Linked DNA regions of Homo sapiens. The protein of the gene in region 2 purifies or fractionates together with the protein of the main gene of each other region. This does not show direct contact. Each region holds a gene or a part of one and is shown on either strand. Other genes may lie near its edges. The genes, in order: SCRT1, MAP2K5, LSM14A, HMGA2 and MACROH2A2.

Region 1 (4,104 bases), on a different chromosome or scaffold from region 2:
CCTGCGGCCCCTGGCCCCGCGCGCGCCTCGGTGCCTGCCCCCGCGCGCGTGCCGCCCCGGCCCCCCGGCCCGGATCCCAAGCTGCGCCCGCCCGCCCCGCCCCCGCCTCCGGCGTCGCCGTCGGGGGCCGCCGCCGAGGCTGTGGAGGGAGCGGCGGCAGCGCCGGCATTGGAAGCCTTACGCCGCGAGCGCCCGTCGGTGATGAAGAAGGCGTCCGCCGCGTAGCCCTCGCTGACGGCCGCGTCGCCGTTGATGTAGCCGCCCGCAGCGGTGGCCAGCTCCGGGCGCGGGGTGGGCGGCGGCGCAGACCCTGCAGCCGCCGGACCCAGCTCTCCACGCACAGCTGCTGCGTACATGGGCTCCGGCGACGGCCCTTTGAGCAGCGCAGCCTCGGCGTCGCCATCGTAGACGGACGAGGGCCCCACGTAGTCGCTGAGGTACCCTGCGGGCGGAGGCGGACGGACAGCGGGAAGGGAATGGGGCGGCGGCAGGACACACACGGGGGATGGGGGGGCGGGAGACAGCAGACGCGGACCGGGAGACCCGGGTCCGGGAGAGAGGCGAACAGGGAGGAGGACAAAGGAGAGGAGGCCGAGGGACCGCCGGGCAGGGAGGATGGAGACAGCAGGGAGGGGAAGAGAGGGGAGGAGAGGATGAGACAGGGCCGGGCCACGCTCCGCCCCCGCCGCCCCACCCTCGCAGAGAGGAGGAGAGAGGCGCGTCTTCGGGCGCGGCTGCCCCCCTTCCGCGGAGCCTCAAGGTCAGGGGGGAGGGGCGGCGCTTCCCTCTCCCTCCTCCCCCACCCACCCTCCCCTCCCCCTCGGGTTCTCCCCACTTCAGCAGTTTTCCCTGATTATGCAACACACTGCAGACCCGCGGCGCACAAAGCCAGGACTGCCGGCCCAGGGACCCCGTCTGTCCCACCTCTCCGGGGTCCTGGCCGGCTCTCCCTCTGGCCTGCAGAACGTGCGCTCCATTTTGATGTTGACCCCCTCTGGCCTTCTGGTTCCTCCAACAAGCCCTGAAGACGTCTCCCTCCCCCAGTTCCCTCCGGCCTCACCAGCACCTCCCTCAGCTCTCCGGCCACCCACTGGACTTGACCCTGCCCTCCCTGCTCCTCCATGCACTCTGCTTCTCCTCCGAACTCCCTCTCACCATCCTGCACCCTTGGGTCCTACCCTGTTCAACATTGCCCTCTCCTGCTCACACCCTAACCCCTTTCAGGGCCTTCCCAAGCCCCTGAACTGTGCAGAGAGGGCCAGGGCGTCCACTTTCACAGGGACGAGCTGCAGGAGGGCAGCATCACTTATACCGGTAGCTGCAGTTGCTCCCCAGGCACAAGATGGATCTCATAACCTCAAAGTCACAAATGCACGCCCCTCGCGACGCTCTGCCTCCTTCAGGGCTACACCCAGTCTCCCAGCATGATCAGCCCTTGTGTGCCCTCACAGGGTGGGCTGCACACTGATGTGCCGAACTCACCACCTCCTCACTCACGCAGGGTCACACATGCAGTCACCCCGGACACACTCTCAAGTCACATGGTGCACAGCGGCCTCAGAGTCACATGGTCCCATGTAGTGGCACACAGGCAAGCACACACACACACAGGGTCACACACAAGCGCACACGGTCACATGGCCACACACAGTCACATGGACCCACACAGGCTCACACTCCTGCAGGTCACACTTGCTCTGCCACCCCATGCTGCTGGCACTCCTGTCCCCCTCTCCTGCATGCTGACAGTTGTCCTTGAACTTGGGCACCCTTACACAAAGAGCCTCCCCCTGCCTCCCACACCTTGGGCGTCCCTTGCTCACAGCCTCCTCCCTGCTTCCTCTCCCTGACCCAGGCTTCAGGGAAGAGACTGCTGCTGCCTCTGCTGGCCCTCTGCTCTGACAGGTGGGCGGCCCTGTTGGACCCCCTGCCTACTCCCTGGAGCTCCCTGCATTCCCCAGCTAACCCTAGCAGGTGTCCTGGTGCAGTCAAGGAAGAGGAGAGGGTGGCGAGGCGGCCCTGGTCTCTTGAGTGTAGGTCTGTGTGTGCCGGCATGGCTGGGTCCCGTCATGGCAGCGCCCATGCGGCTGTGTCTGTCCCAGCATGGGTCAGGATGTGGGTCCATGTGTGCGTTTGGGTACCTCAGTTCCTGATCCTCTTCCCCACCCTCTGTCCAACGTCGACACTCTCCCTGCCCAGCCTTGGCCTCTGTGTTCCCCTTCCTCCCCTCTACCGTCCAGGCTCCAGCCACAGACTCTTGCCGTTTCTGGTTCCCTTCAGTCTGTTTCCCCGGGCCCTGCCCTCCGCCCCCACACTCTGGCCCTCCACCGCTTCCAGCAAAGCCCCAGGCCCCGCGCCCTGGTCTCAGACCAGCGCTCACCTTTATCGTGCAGTGGCGCGCCGAGGTCGCTGCGGGCGCGTCCGTAGGCGCTCTCCAGGTCGGCCGAAGAGAACGCGTCAAGTTTGACCTTCTTGACCAGGAAGGACCTGGGCATGATTCCTGCGGGGCTCCGGCGCTGTGGGCCTGCGGAGCCGGGGCTTGGGGGGGCTGCGGCGGCAGGGCCCCGTCACCATCCGAGGAGCGGCGGAGGCAGCGCGGGTCCCCACTCTGGCCTTTGGATGCTGCCGCGCGAGTGGTGTCCTCTCTCCTTGCTGCCCTGCGTCTCCTCCGTTGCCCCTCCGGATCCCTCTTCTTCCTCCTTCCTTCAATCCTTCCTTCCTTCCTTCAATCCTTCCTTCCTTCTCTCCTCTTCTCTCCTCTCCTCTTCCTTCCTTCCCTCCTCTGGTCCCGGCTTCCCAGCCCGCAGTGCCGCCCCTGGACAGGCGGGGGAGGAGGCTGGGGGGGCGGAGAGGGGGGGAGCGGCTCCGTCCCGGGCCTGGAGGCTGCGAGTGGGTGCAGGGCTGGCCCGGCTCGGTGGCCCCCTTCCCCTCCCCCCCCCCGCCGCCGCGGCGGAGCCTCAGTCAGCGGCCCCCCATGCCCCCGGGGGCGGCGGCGCCGGGCCCGGAGAACGCGGTGGCAGCGGCAGCGCCGGCAGCTTCAGCACCGCGGCCAGCGCCGGCCTGGGCAGCACCGCGGCCAGCGCCCGGGCGCGCTCAACCGGCGCGGGCGGAGAGGGGCGGTCCGCGGGGGTTTGGCCGCCGGGCAGGGGTCCTCGGCGGGGGTCTCTGGGAGGCTTGCTTTATTGTTCTGCAGCCGGAGCGAGCGGCAGTGGCGACGGCGGCGGCGGCGGCGGCGGCGGCGGCGGGCGGGGGGCGGGGGTCCTGGGGGGAGGGGTGCGCAGGGAGGGCGGGCCGAGGGAGGGAGGGAGGGAGGGACAGGGGCTCCGGGGGCGGGGCTCGGCGCTCGGACTGCTCCTGGGCCCGGCCTCCAGAGCCCGCAGCCGCCTCTGCCTGCGGCCCGGCCCAGCCTCTGGCTTTTAAAGCCCAGGAGCTGGGGGAGGGGGAGGGAGGTGGGGGAGAGGCCGGCGGAAATGGCTGCGCTGGGCCGAGCCCCGGCCTGGGTCTCCTGGGAGGGGTCCCGGGGATGCCTCAGCCTGCGCGAGTGGGGAATTCCCCCGCGCGGCTCGGGGAACCGCGGCCCGGCAGCCAGCAGCATTGTCGGGCGTGTGGGGAGAAATGGAGCCAGGCCTGGGACCCAAGCGCCCCGGACTCGGGGTCTTGTGGGGAGGAACGTAGGGAGGACCCCAGTCCCGCCTGCCTCGCTCGGGGCCTGGGGCGCGGGATCTGCGGGGGCGGGCGGGGGAGGCGGGAGCCGAAGGAGCAAGTGCTGAGGCAGCGAAAGCGCAGCGCGCGCCCTGTGCCGCAGTGGCTCCCGCCGCTCGGTCACCCCGGCTGACCCCGTGCACGCTGGAGGGGCCTACCCGCCCCCGCCTCTCTCCCCCCGGGCGGGTGTGCGGCGCAGCGGCGTCGCTGCGAGCCGGGTGTGGAGCTGGAGAGGGGCTGCCACGACCCTGCTCCAGAAATTCTGCTGCTTTGGGGGTTTTCCGCCCTTCCGCGCGGCTGCAGCTCCCCACGGCAGCCCCGCAACCAGGCGGATAACCCTTTCCTCGGCCGCCCGCCCAGCGTTTGCAGCCCCCATGACGTCAGGCTCAGCGGCCAATGGCG
Region 2 (2,930 bases):
TTGAGATGCTATTCAGACCTTCAAGTGGAATCCTGAGCCCCTTGGAGCCTCAGCTCCTCACCTGCAAAATGGGGGTAGCCAGGCTTACCTGGCATGTGGCTGAGGGGATTTCCTGAGAGGTGAGAGGTGGCAGGTGTGGGGTCAAGGGCAGTGAGGAGCAGGGGTGGGGCTGGGGTGGAGAAGGGCCTCTCAGAACAGCCCACTCCCTCCTCAGCCACGCAGGTCAGGTGGATGTGTCTGGCAGTCCAGTAAGGAGCTCATGGCGGGGGCCTGAGATCCGGGCCTACTCCTTGCCATGGGACCCATCCCAATGCCTCCGTGCTTCTGTTTCTCATCTGACAGTGGAGCTGGGCTGTGGGCCTCAGCACAACTGCGAGGAGCTAGCAGGAGGCTTGCAGGTGCCTGGGCAGGCAGCAGGCACTGTCACACACATCCCTGCTGAAGTGGAGATCCCACCTGCCCCCAGCCCTGGGGGGGGTCACAGACCCCCTGGACCACACAACTCTTATGGCAGAGGCTGTCACAAAGCATTAATACTTTTATTCCCATCAGTGATGCTGACGGGCCTGACCCTTTATAGAGAAAAACATTAGGAAAACAGAAGTGGGCAGGGACCCTGGGAGCCTCCATTCTCAATGCCCCACCCTTTACCTCTCTGCCAGTGTCAGCGCCTTCAAACCAGAAGGTATGGGGATGGCCTGGTGGGGTGGGCCACACATGGGGCTCCCCAGGCAAGGCCACCTGCTGACAGAGGTGAAGGCGAGGGCAGGGAAGCCAGGGCCCAGCAAAGCTCTTCTGGCGCAGGCAGCATACGGAGAAGGGCGACGGGTGGGTTGTTCTCCTTGGTTACTGGTCCTGGGCTTTCAGTGCCCTGCGGCAGCCTCACGGGGGCCCCTGCTGGCTCCGCCTCTCCTCCAGCGCCCGGCACACCCACATGGACACCACGGCGGCATTTCCATCATTGAACTGCACGATGAACGGGTGGCCCTGCGGGGAAGAGGAGGAGGCTGTGACAGGCAGTCCTCGGACTCCCGCGCTCATTGTACTTTCCAGGGCCTGCCCTCAGCCTGGATCTGATCTCTTTCCCCAGTAACCCTGTGAGGTAACGAGGGAGGCTATCAGCTCCATTTCACGGCCTAGATAATTGAGGCCCAGGGACGAGCAGTGACATACTGGTAGTCAGCACCAAGCGTGTGGAGTGCTGGCTGGCACATCTCAGACTCTGCCACCTCTTCCTGAGGCTCGCACTAGCCTGGAAGGTGCTTAAGGGCGAGGGCCTGTCTTCGCTGCACACTCTGCCTGGCCCTTCCTCTGCCCGGCATCACTCGCACGGCCAGTCAGCCGAGGCCTGGCACTGTGTTGCCAGCTTTCCGGTTCAGTTGGTGCCCAGAGACCAAAGAATCATCTCGTCAGAGGCTATGTCAATCCCTTTTAGCTTTCTCCTTTGTCTACAGCTCTCCTATAAAAAGAAGTCACCACCTGCAATTGGAGGGAAGGCAAACATGTCAGGGGAAGTGGGGAGGGGGAGGAATGTGCTGGGCTGTGCACAGGATCTCTGGGTTCCTGGTGAGAAGTTCCATTGGGGGCTGGACTCTGGAGGGGCCGGCCCTGTTGCCCTGTGGCCTGCCTCTGGTTCTAACCCACTTATCACACAGGCAGACCAGATTCTATTTAGCCAGTTCTCTTCTCTGCTGTCCTGAAGCACCAAGATTTACATCCACAATCTTAGGGCCTCCTGGGAATTCCCAGGGAAGGTCAGAAAAAAGCAGGGACAACCCCAGGGTTACCAGGCCACAGTCAGAGGTGAAAGGAAAAGTGAAAAGCCTTCTTTTTCTTCCTCTTCACCAAGTGGCTTCTTGCCCAGGAACTTACACCAAGTGGCTTCCTCTCCTACCCAAAACTGTGCAGCTTGCATGGTGAGACTCGGGGAGCCATAGCGAGGACAGAGAATGGGGGAGATGAGGGCGCCATGTGCCTGCCCCCAGCTCTTCTCCCTCCCTGTCCAGCGGCCGCTTCCTCGCTCCCCCCAGCTCTCTCCTCCCTCCAGCTTCCTCAGCCCCTCTTGGGCCTGTCCTCCACCTGCACAGGCTGGGCTTTCAGGGTTGCTTTCCCAGCACACCCCAGCCTTGACTGCAGCCCTAGAGAGGCTGCTTAAAGAGCCGCATGGCCTCGCCACGAGCTCATCACAAAGCCAGGAGGGATGTGGACCCTGGCTGTCCCAACCTCAGCGCCTGCAGGGGCTGTCAAGGACCAGGCCTGGGTAGAGCAGGGGACGGCATGGCCCCTCTGGACCACAGGTCAGAACTGTGGGGGACAGGAGAATGCTCAGGCCGCCTCATCCTAGGCTGATGCAGTGCCCGCCCCCAACCTTCTCATTCGAGGTTGGGAAACCTGCCCTGGGGACACCCTGCGTGGGTCTATCTCAGAGGCACACAGAGCACTGTCAGAGCTGCGAGGAGGAGGAGGAAACTCGGCTTCGAAGATGCCAAGGCACTCAACCCCGGGCAGGGACCCGCTGAGACTGGGGTGGAGCTAGGCCTGGAGCCCAGCTGGGTACTTCCCATAATCTGCTCATAGCACTCTGGGAGGCTCCTGACACACCTGCAGGACCCCTAAGGGCACAGGGGCCATGGAGGCCAGGCTGGGTGTGGCCCTGTGGATGGCAGAGGTTTGGTCTGGGGCCTGAGCAGGAGAGGCCCAGGAAGGACTGGATTTTGGCTTCCAAGTGTTCTCCTCCCCATATATATGCCCACCCCACGGCTGCTTTCCCAAATCGCTGCCTAGACAGAGGAAATCCTTCCCAAAGTCCAAGCGTGCACACTTCCTCTCAGGAGGCTCAGGAGGGGCGACCTCGTGCCCTTCTAAAGAACAAAGGGAGAAGCTGTGCTCACGAGTGACGGGCCCCTCCCCCCACGCCCGGGGTAACACAG
Region 3 (3,518 bases), on a different chromosome or scaffold from region 2:
CCCAGAATGCCGGGATTACAGGCATGAGCCACCGCACCCGGCTGCTTTTTCTTAAGCAACATGAGTTAAATGTGTAACCAGTTTGGGGAATTTGATTATGTTCGCAAAAACTGACATTATCAAACCTTTATATATTAGTCTACATGATATTATCTAATCGAAAACTACATTATAACTGTCTAGTCAATACTGGACACATTTCAGATTTCAAGATTAGAAGCAAGGAGTTCAATCTTAAAATTTTAAAATTTACATGACTTGTTGAGTAATTCGATATCAGAAAATTTCACCTTCCATTTCAAAATTTGAACGAAGAATGGTAGTCTAAAAGATTAAAGCCAAAAGTGTTTGTTTTGTTTTGTTTTCGTTTTTTTTTGTTGTTGTTTTGAGACAGAGTCTTGCTCTTGCCCAGGCTGGAGTGCAGTGGTGCGATCTTGGCTCGCTGCAGCCTCCACCTCCCGGGTTCAAGCAGTTCTGCCACAGCCTTCCGAGTAGCTGGGACTACAGGCGCCCAACACAGCTGGCTAATTTTTGTATTTTGAGTAGAGACGGGGTTTCACCATGTTGGCCAGGCTGGTCTCAAACTCCTGACCTCAGATGATCCACCCACCTTGGCCTCCCAAAGTGCTGGGATTACAGGTGTGAGGCACTGCACCCGGCCTGAAGCCAAAAGTTTATTCATGGAATTTATAATACAGTGTGTATTTGGATGTAGAGATCCCTGTTACTGTTTTTAAACTATGGATTAAGAGTTAATCTCTTTGAGTAACAGTCTTAGCATTCTCTTTTGAACTTTTTTTTTTTTAATTTCTCAGGGAGAGTGTTATTGGGAAACCTAACTACACAGGCTGAAAAGATACATAAGATAAAAATGAAATATTTTTAAACAAACATCTTTGTAACCACCACCCAGGGCAAGACAGACATTGCCAGCATCCCAGAAGCCTCCCACCACCTATATTTTCCCATCACAACTATCACCATCTTAATTTAAGCTAGATATAAATGTTCTTCTGACATTTATAGTTTTACCATATAAGTTTACATCTCTAAATAATAGAGTTTAATTTTGCCCATTTTTAACTTTATGTAAATAGGATTGTGTTGTATATATTTTATTTTTAGCTTTTATTGTTTCATAATATTCCATCATGAATATAACACAAGTTTATTCCTTCTGCCATTGTTTTGGATATTGCATTTAGATTGTTTGCAGTTTGGGGCTATTATAAACAATGCTTTTATGAACATTTCTGTTTAAGTGCACTGGTGCATGTTTATTTCGTTTTCTTGAGATTATATACTTAGAATTTGAATTGCAAGAACATGGGGAATGTTGGTCTTTATCAGGTAATGCCAGGTAGTTTTTCAAAGTAGTTGTTTAGTGGTTTTTACTTCATTTATTAGTATGTAAGAGTTCTTGTTTCATATCCCTTACCAACAACCGTACGTGGTATCATATATTTCAATTCTAGCCAATCCTGGTGGGTATGTAGTTGTATTTAGTTTTAATCATTTCCCTCATTACTAAATGGGGCTGACCAGCTTTTCATATCTGGGTGTTTGGATTTCATTTTTCATAAAATGCCTTTGAAATCTTTTCCTTTTTTAAATCGAAACACGTCTTTTTCTAGAGTTCTGTATTCTGAATATATCTCCATTGTTGGATGTATATATTGCAAACATTTTTTCCATTTAGTAGTTTCTTTAAATTAACAGAAGTTCTTCATTTTAATGTAAACATGTTCATCAGTTTTTTATGGCTAGTGTTTCTTTTTTTAAAACATCATAGAGATACTTTGATTATCTTTAAACCTTTTTGTGCTTTGCTTTTTCACATTGACGTTTATAATGCATCTGAAATTGATTTTGTGTACAATGTGAGATATTCAGAGCTTTATATTTAGTAAGGGATTCACTTGGTTTATATTGTCCATATTATAATTTAGGGCTTGGATATTATAATTTAAATATATCTGGAACTATAAACTACTCTTGAAATTTTTGGCTATTTACATTTGATGTGGTATATAATTAGGGTAACCATATGGCCTAGTTTGCCCTGGTGGAAAGTCCTTGTTTGTGCCTGCTCTGGCATAATTATTAAAAACATCCCGGCTGGGCAGGGTGACTCAGGCCTGTAATCCCAACATTTCCAAAAGGTCAAGGCCGGGGTATTGCTTGAGCCCAGGAGTTCAAAACCAGCCTCGGCAATACAGGGAGACTCCATTTCTACAAAAAATTTTAAAAAGTGCATTAGCCAAGCATGGTGGCATGCATGTCTGTCGTCCCAGCCACTTGGGAGGCTGAGGCAGGGGGATTGCTTGAGCCCAAGAGGAGCTGTGATCATGCCACTGCACTCCAGCCTGAAACATAGAACAAGACCTTGTCTTAAAAAATAACAATGATAGCCTGTAATCCCAGCACTTCAGGAAGCTGAGGCAGGCGAATCACCTGAAGTCAGAAGCTCGAGACCAGTCTGGCCAACATGGCGAAACCCCGTCTCTACTAAAAATACAAAAATTATCTGGGCGTGCTGGTGCATGTCTGTAATCCCAGCTACTTGAGAGGCTGAGGCAGGAGAATTGCTTGAACCTGAAAGGCGGAGGTTAGAGTGAGCCAAGATCACACCACTGTACTCTAGCCTGGGCAACAGAGCGAGACTCTGTCTCAAAAAAAAAAAAAACACAAAATAATAATAATAATCTGTTTTCTCTTTTGAAAATGTTTCAGTGTGGATAAGTTATCACACCACATAATCAAAAGCCTAATTGCAGAGGTGCTGTGAAATGGTCGATGTGCCTTATTTTCTGCTAGAGATGTCACAGACTAGCTTTAGTTCTAGAAAGTGAAACAGGTAAGTTTGAGGGGCTTTGATCCTCGGAACCTAAGCATATGTCAAGAAGTCATAAAGGCAACCTAGAAAGGCTTTGATGTCAATCTGCTATGTATGTTTATAGATGATCTGTGTTGCAGTTTGTTTCTGCAGTTTGTTGCAGTTTGTAGTCTGTGTCACAGCTCTGAATTTATTTTCTTCTCAGCACTGATCATGACTTACACTTAATCTTCTTTGCTTATTTGCATATGTGTTTATTGTCTGTCTTCACCTTCCCCTTCACCTCCAGACTCTGAGCTCCTGGTATGAAAGGTTGTTTAGTTAGTGAGTAAATGGAAATGATTTAGCATTTTAGCTTATTGTTCTTGTAGAAGTATCTTGGGTATACCTCCAAATAATGCTTTTCCATGTTCACAATTGCATTTCCCTATAAAATTAAATTATCCTGCCTCACATTAAGAAATCTTGAAGAATTTCAGTGAGTAGGGATGCAAGAGGATGAAATCTAGTGACATAATTAACATTATTGGGGAGGTAAACTCTTTGTGACTCAAGCTCAATTATAATTTTCATTTAAAGTTTAAAGGAAGCCTCCATTCAGGGTGTAGGAAGAAATTACACAGTGGTGACATGTATGAATATTTTATGGAATAGTTCCAGTTGTGTTTGCACCTACGTCTAT
Region 4 (3,518 bases), on a different chromosome or scaffold from region 2:
AAGTGTTTATATGTGTGTCTTATTTCCCTCTTATCATCAGAATTCTAGAGTTCAGTAAAACTAGAGATAATTTCACCTAGCCCTCTCATTTAGCAAAGAAGAAAACTTCTGGATGTGTTACAATTCCCAAAGACATAGCCCCATGATATTATTTGGGAACCAGAAGTCTTGTGGGTATCAGTCGCAGAAGGCATACATTTCCAATCCCTTTATAACCTTTGGAGTGGCCCTTCAAAGGTTTCCCAAAGCGTAATTTCCAACCTGCATTTCAGGTTACTGGAGATAACAGAAATCTACCTTGTAACAAATATTTTACAGAACATTCAGCACATGGTAGTGGAAAGAGTATAAGCTTTAGAATTAAAGTGAATTCAAACCCAGGTGCTACCATTTACCAGAGTTGAATATCAGATATGTCCTGTTTACATCTTTGAATCACAGTTTTCTCATTTGTGGAATGAAGACCACAATGCCTAAATCAGAGGATTAAAGGAGCTAACATATATATAAAGTGCCTGACAAAAGCTATGGCATTTAGCACTTAGTCAAATGTAATTTCTTTTCCCTCCCCTTATTTTAAAATGCTACCCACAAATATAATACTTACCAATTTTCTTAGTTTCCAAAGTGACTTTCCAAGCATTATCTTACTTCAGTAGGGCAGGGCAGGTGTTACTTCCCGTTTTACAAATGGGAGATTAAGCAACCTGCCCATGTTCACAGGTAGTAGAACTGAGACCCAATCTGATTTCAATGCAGTGAAGTGTCTGTTCTTTGGAGAGCTATTCCCATATAAAATAAAACTGCCATTCAAAAATTTAAAAAATAAAAGATAACCTTCTAGGGTGAAAATCAAATTAGTTAAAAGTAATGTATTTCCAAGTTTCCTATAAACACATGGACAAGAGCAGAGGTTGGAAACTAAGAATAATTCAATTCTGACTTCAGGGTCAGGTTTAGGTGGCTATTAATTTTTTGCTATTACAAGTTCTCTCATCATTTTTTTTATGTACTGTGATATAGCCAGAAATCCCCCACTGCAAATCCATCAGTGCATCTGTACCAAAAAAAAAAAAAACTAGAAAAATATTTGGGTGTGATGGTGCCCTGTCTTGTTTGCATGTATCTTGATTTGCATGAAGCCCACTATCCAAAGCCTAGAAAGCACATTTTATTTCCTTCAGTTGCTATTTTTAAAAATATAAACAGTATAAATCAATGTACACTGATATCAAAATCAACTCTACGAATCAATCCCACTAAGTACTGAGGAAATTCTCATTTTACCTTTTTGATAATCCAGTTCTGTAAGTTTCCTAATTTTACATGCAACACTTTTAGCCTTGAAGAGACATTACAATTTGCTATCACAATATATTTTCCAATAGAAAATATAAGTAATTTCCATCACCCATTGTAGTTCCTGCCTATTACCCAAGTTAGCCTTTACTGTCAACTCTGGTGTCCTTATTTTGCACATGCTTATCTTCATGTATACAAACACTAAATTAAAACCAAAGCCAAATGACAGGCAAAGTTATCATTTTCAAAGTTTAAGATTCTTCTCCTCCAAATCTTCTCTCTACTTCTTTGTAATCATAAAAATCAATAGCAATGATACAAGAGATCATTGCTATTGATCACAGGAGTTACCTTCTGAGCAAACATGATCCTAGACAAAAGAGAATGCCTGCACTACTCTTCCCTAATTTAAATAGAATATGCCATTCAAAATTGCTCAGTGTATTAAAACAATATGAAATAATGCAATGCCCTAACAAATAACAGTTCTCTATTTCCCCTTTTCTCTTGGTTGGCAGAACAAAGATTCATAACTAAAACCTTCAGAATCAGTGAAATTAATTCAGTTTCCACTTTGTGCCTTCTGCTCTGTAAACTGCAGAAAGTCAACTAACAAGACAAGACATGTTTGAATGATTTAACTGACATAAAATCCTCTTCAGCACCCATCTATTCTCAAGAAAGAACTGAAATGCAATAGAATACCAATCTGGTATATTCTATCTCCTTAGCAAAATGATCTGTTGAGAACTTGAGATAAAAATGAGCCAGGAATGTAGGTCAGCCAGAGAAATGAGGAGACTTCAAGTTCAGAAGAGTTCAGAAGGATGAGAGCTTCCAGAGAAGTAGAACTATAGGTCCCTTGAAATAAAATTACTTCATAAGATAATTCAAATGTATTTCAATCTCCCATATTTGGATCATAATCTGTGATGATTAAAAGCATTACCAGATAGAATGTGCTGGTGCATTAAGTAAGGCTTTGTCTTCCCTGGCAAAGTGAAAGAAAAAAATTAGTCAATTGTTTAGGTAAGTCAGCCTAAATATCAAGATAATGGAACAACAGTTGGACTTTACTTAATTTCACCTGCTGAATTCATTTGTATCCTCAGATAGGGCCCTGAATCCGCCTGAATTCATTTGTATCCTCAGATAGGGCCCTGAATCCCACAATAAAACTTACCTGCCCATTGAAACACAGAGGAATTAAACTAAATCATAGTAGTTTAATTTAGAAACCATAGGCCAGAATTATATGATAACTTCCAAAGTTACCTTTCCTTAACTCACCAATAATAATGTCTTTGGTTTCTCCTTTTAATTAGGCCTACTATATTCTGAAGAAAATTCTGTCCTCACTCAGCATTTATGCTGAATGATTTTTCTGAAATGGTGACTAAAACTATCTTCTCTCTTTTTAAAATATCTGTGATTGGTGTGGGTAATGATTATGAAAAGCAAACCACATTTCGAGAAATGCAAATGATTAGAAGGAGCATGAAGTAGTCTTTACAGTATCTAATTAATTCAGGCCTTCTTTTTATAGCAAATCAAACATAGAGATTAAACATTTACTCTGAACACATTATTTTAACTATAACTACTTTATCTAGATATTTTCATTCTGCACTTTGCTTCCTAGATCTGTCCATTACACCTAAAGTCAAAAGGGTGGTGAACAAATATATGACATGATGAAGTAGGGTTATCTCACACCTGAGATCTTTTTTTTTTATTTTCATTTTCCTTCCAATAAAATTTAATTCAACCTCAGAAAAAAACTTCCTAAAATATGTGAATGAGAATTGGCTTAAAACTTAAAGGTGAATTTGACCTGAGACCTTCAACACTGAAGAATTAGTGACAACCCCTCCAGTATTCTGTCATGATTAAAAAAGTACAACAAAACCCTAAACTAAAGGAGATTATAACTTCTTTCTCTCTAACCATCTGGGAACTGTAAAAATGCAAAGATTTCCATCCACCACAACCAGGAAAGCAAAGCAAAGCAAAACAAAACAAAAAAGGAAGTTAAGACATAACTGGTCATAGGTGTACCTCAGACTAAAAAATAAATAAAAGGGTAAAGATATGCTCACACAGACGTATACACACATGGACAAATGAATTATTCAGGAAAACTTTAACTTCTGATTTCTTTTATTCAGGTAACTATATGAAACTGATTCAGGGACAAATTTTGAGCACTCAGATTG
Region 5 (3,518 bases), on a different chromosome or scaffold from region 2:
CCTGACTTCCCAAGACGGAATAGAGTTGGAGGAAAGGGTGGCCCGGGAAAGAAGGAAGTTCAGGGTTATAATTTATCATAACTCCAGGCATAATCCAGCACAGGCTTTGGGGAGAGGTGGTCTTTAGAAAGCAGGGTCTTCTCTGGAGTGGCCCCAGAGGCTCAGCACTTCCTCCCGTCGGTGGGCTCTGGTAGATGTAACATGTCAGCTCCATAAGCCCCTCCTTGCTTCCCCTAGGGATTCCTGGATGTGCTCTAATTCTTACTGTCCGTGTCCAGGGACCTCACAGCCCTGAGTCCCCAGGAGGGCCTGGGAGATAGGTGCCTGGCTGCTTAAATTCCGCACAAGACCTGAAAAGATGGGTTTGGCAGGCATAGAGGACTCTCCAGTCCTGCTTAAAATACATGCATAAGTCAGTCCATCTCACACTTAGACTTCAGATGGAGCTGCATCCCCCACCCAGGGGGATTTCCTCTAAGGCCCTCACTTAGAGGGAAGTCTGGAAGCCACAGAGGGAAAAACTTATTATAAAGTACCATGTTCAGGATGATTCTTACATTTAGGTACTTTTTTACAATGTGCAGGTGGTATGTTTCTCTACTTGTTCCTACTTTGATTTTCCTTACTTGGCTATTTTATCTTCATGAGTGTTGAGTTTTGTTTGTTTGTTTGTTTTTGAGACGGAGTTTCGCTGTCGTTGCCCAGCAGGAGTGCAATGGTACAATCTCGGTTCACTGCAACCTCCTCCTCCTGGGTTCAAGTGATTCTTTTGCCTCAGCCTCCAGAGTAGCTGGAATTACAGGCACCCGCCACCACGCCCGGCTAATATTCTGTATTTTTAGTAGAGTCGGGGTTTCATCATGTTGCCCAGGCTCAAACTCCTGACCTCAGGTGATCCACCCACCTTAGCCTCCCAAAATGTAGGGATTACAGGCGTAAGCCACCACGCTTGGCCTCTTCCTGAGTGTTTTAGGCATCCGTCCCCTAAAGTCACTTGCTTTTCTTATACTCCTAGTCCTAAGTTCCAATTTTTAGGGCAGTTTGTGACTTCTCTTGGCAGCTAATAGTAGGAAAGTCCCTAAATGGCTTTATCCTGCACACCTAGTCATTCTCTGGCTGTTTTGAGGAAAGTGTGTGTGTGTGTGTGTGTGTCTGTGTGCATGTGCATGTGTGTGTGTGTGTGAGCGCGTGCATGTATGCGTGTGCACGTGCATGCGTGTGTGGGCGCGCGTGTGCATGTGCATGAGTGTGTGTGTGTGTGTGCGCGTGTGCACAGGGGGTGTCCCTGCCCTTGTGGTGTTTGTACTTCATGCAGCATTCTCTGGTGGAAGCATGGTAGGGAGAGATTAAGACCAGCCAGCACACACCATATTCACAGAGCACGTCCACCCTGTGATGGGCTTTTCAGGTGGTTTCTTGACAACCAGACTTAGTAATCATCCTCCAATCCCACTTACCATTAACTGAGAAAAGCACATAATTGGCTTAGGAGAGTCACTAATGCACCTTTATGAGCCTGTGTAGGCTCTTAAGTCTTTAGAACCGACTGCTTAAAGAGCCTAAGCTTCTCTACCAAAATCATTGAAAAGTGCCTTTCAGAAAAATCAGGATGTTTAAGAGCAGAACAACTGTAAGGATGTTAGCCACCTGCCCTGTTTTACAGAGAAGGCCACTGAGGTCCAAATAAATAACATATGAAGCTCACATAACTACAGTCATGCATCACTTAACGAAAGGGGTACGTTCTGAGAAATGCATCGTTAGGTGATTTTGTCATTGTGCAAACAGCATAGAGTGGACTTCACAAACCTAGATGGTACAGCCTCCTGTACACCTAGGCTATAATCCTATGATCTGTTGCTTCTGGGCTACAAACCTGCTCAACATCTTACCATACTGAATACTGCAGGCAATGGTGATGGTAAGTTTTTGTGTCTCTAAACTTAGAAAAGGACAGTAAAATACAGTATAAAATGTAAACAGCAGTACACATGTATAGGGCACTTGCCGTGAATAGAGCTTGCAGGACTAGAAGTACTCTGGGTGAGTGAGTGAGTGGTGAGTGAATGTGAAGGCCCGGGACATTATTGTACACTACTGTAGACTTTATACCGTACATGTTAGCTACACTACATTTAAAAGAGAATATTTTCCTTAATAATAAATTAACCTTACCCAATAATAAATTTTCCAATAAATTATCCAATAATAAATTAACCTTAGCTTACTGTAATTTTTTTTACTTTATAAACTTTTTAACCTTTTTAAACTTTTTGACTCTTTTGTAATAACACTTAGCTTAAAACACAAATACATTGCACAGCTACTACACATATTTTCCTTCTTTATAGCCTTACTCTATAAGCATTTTTCTTTTTTTATTTTATTATTATTATACTTTAAGTTTATAAGCATTTTTCTATTAAAATTTTTTTTAACTTTTTAAACTTCTGTTAAAAAAAATAAGACACATACACATTAGCCTAGGCCTACACAGAGTCAGGGTCATCAATAACACTGTCTTCCACCTTCACATCTTGTCCACTGGAAAGTCTTTAGGGACAATAACACGCACGGAGCTGTCATCTCCTGTAATAATAATGCCTCCTTCTGGAATACCTCCTGAAGGATCCATTTAAGGCTGGTTTACAGTTTACTTTGTTTTTAATAAGTAGAAGGAGTACCAGTAACATCGTCATTTGTTATCAAGTATTATATACTATACATAATTATATGTGCTAGACTTTTATATGACTGGCAGCACAGTAGGTTTGTTTACATCAGCATCACCACAAACACATGAGTAAGGCATTGTGCTACACCGTTAGGATGTCACTAGGTTGGCCAGGTGTGGTGGCTCACACCTGTAATCCCACCACTTTGGGAGGCTGAGGAAGATGGATCACTTGAGGTCAGGAGTTTGAGACCACCCTGGCCAACATGGTGAAACCTCGTCTCTACTAAAAATACAAAAATTAGCCAGGCATGGTGGTGCACACCGATAGTCCCAGCTACTTGGGAGGCTGAGGCAGGAGAATCGTTTGAACCCCAGAGGCAGAAGTTGCAATGAGCCGAGATTGCACCACTGCACTCCAGCCTAGGGGACAGAGCAAGACTCCTTCCCAAACAACAACAACAACAACAAAAAGATGTCACTAGGGCATAGGAATTTTTCAGCTCCATTATGATCATACAGGACCACCGTCATATGCGGTCATTGTGGGGTGCATGACTGTAGTTATGTAGAAGCGGCGCTATGCCCAGGACTTTCTGTTCCGCAGTCCTGGGCTCCTTCCACTATAGCAAGAGCCACCTCCATTTAGAGCACCACAACCCAGCTAGCAAACACGTGCTATGTGAGGACAGGGACCACTTAGCAATGCTGTCTGTTTCCCCTCTTTCCTGCGACAGGGCTGACTAACAGCAGGCCCTCCATACATTTACCTAACACATAGTTGCTTGCTTCCTCAAAGAGAAAACCCCTACAAGTGGATTTATGAGAGTGAGCAGCCACAGAC

The links.
Region 1: the proteins of MAP2K5 (region 2) and SCRT1 purify together in Homo sapiens (affinity purification with mass spectrometry, with the first as the bait; one large-scale study listed by BioGRID). This does not show direct contact.
Region 3: the proteins of MAP2K5 (region 2) and LSM14A purify together in Homo sapiens (affinity purification with mass spectrometry; one large-scale study listed by BioGRID and IntAct). This does not show direct contact.
Region 4: the proteins of MAP2K5 (region 2) and HMGA2 purify together in Homo sapiens (affinity purification with mass spectrometry; one large-scale study listed by BioGRID and IntAct). This does not show direct contact.
Region 5: the proteins of MAP2K5 (region 2) and MACROH2A2 purify together in Homo sapiens (affinity purification with mass spectrometry; one large-scale study listed by BioGRID and IntAct). This does not show direct contact.

Annotation. Positions count from the first base shown.
Region 1 is NC_000008.11:144,333,675-144,337,778, forward strand, and holds the start of SCRT1 (transcriptional repressor scratch 1), read right to left. Parts: upstream 2,809-4,104; 5' UTR 2,496-2,808; coding exon 2,381-2,495; intron 1,518-2,380; exon of another isoform or gene 1,313-1,517; intron 443-1,312; coding exon 1-442. UniProt on the Homo sapiens protein: Transcriptional repressor that binds E-box motif CAGGTG. Can modulate the action of basic helix-loop-helix (bHLH) transcription factors, critical for neuronal differentiation.
Region 2 is NC_000015.10:67,804,703-67,807,632, reverse strand, and holds the end of MAP2K5 (dual specificity mitogen-activated protein kinase kinase 5), read right to left. Parts: intron 988-2,930; coding exon 883-987; 3' UTR 519-882; downstream 1-518. UniProt on the Homo sapiens protein: Acts as a scaffold for the formation of a ternary MAP3K2/MAP3K3-MAP3K5-MAPK7 signaling complex.
Region 3 is NC_000019.10:34,175,489-34,179,006, forward strand, and holds part of LSM14A (protein LSM14 homolog A), read left to right. Parts: intron 1-3,518. UniProt on the Homo sapiens protein: Essential for formation of P-bodies, cytoplasmic structures that provide storage sites for translationally inactive mRNAs and protect them from degradation. Acts as a repressor of mRNA translation. May play a role in mitotic spindle assembly.
Region 4 is NC_000012.12:65,830,974-65,834,491, reverse strand, and holds part of HMGA2 (high mobility group protein HMGI-C), read right to left. Parts: intron 1-3,518.
Region 5 is NC_000010.11:70,069,833-70,073,350, forward strand, and holds part of MACROH2A2 (core histone macro-H2A.2), read left to right. Parts: intron 1-3,518. UniProt on the Homo sapiens protein: Variant histone H2A which replaces conventional H2A in a subset of nucleosomes where it represses transcription. Nucleosomes wrap and compact DNA into chromatin, limiting DNA accessibility to the cellular machineries which require DNA as a template.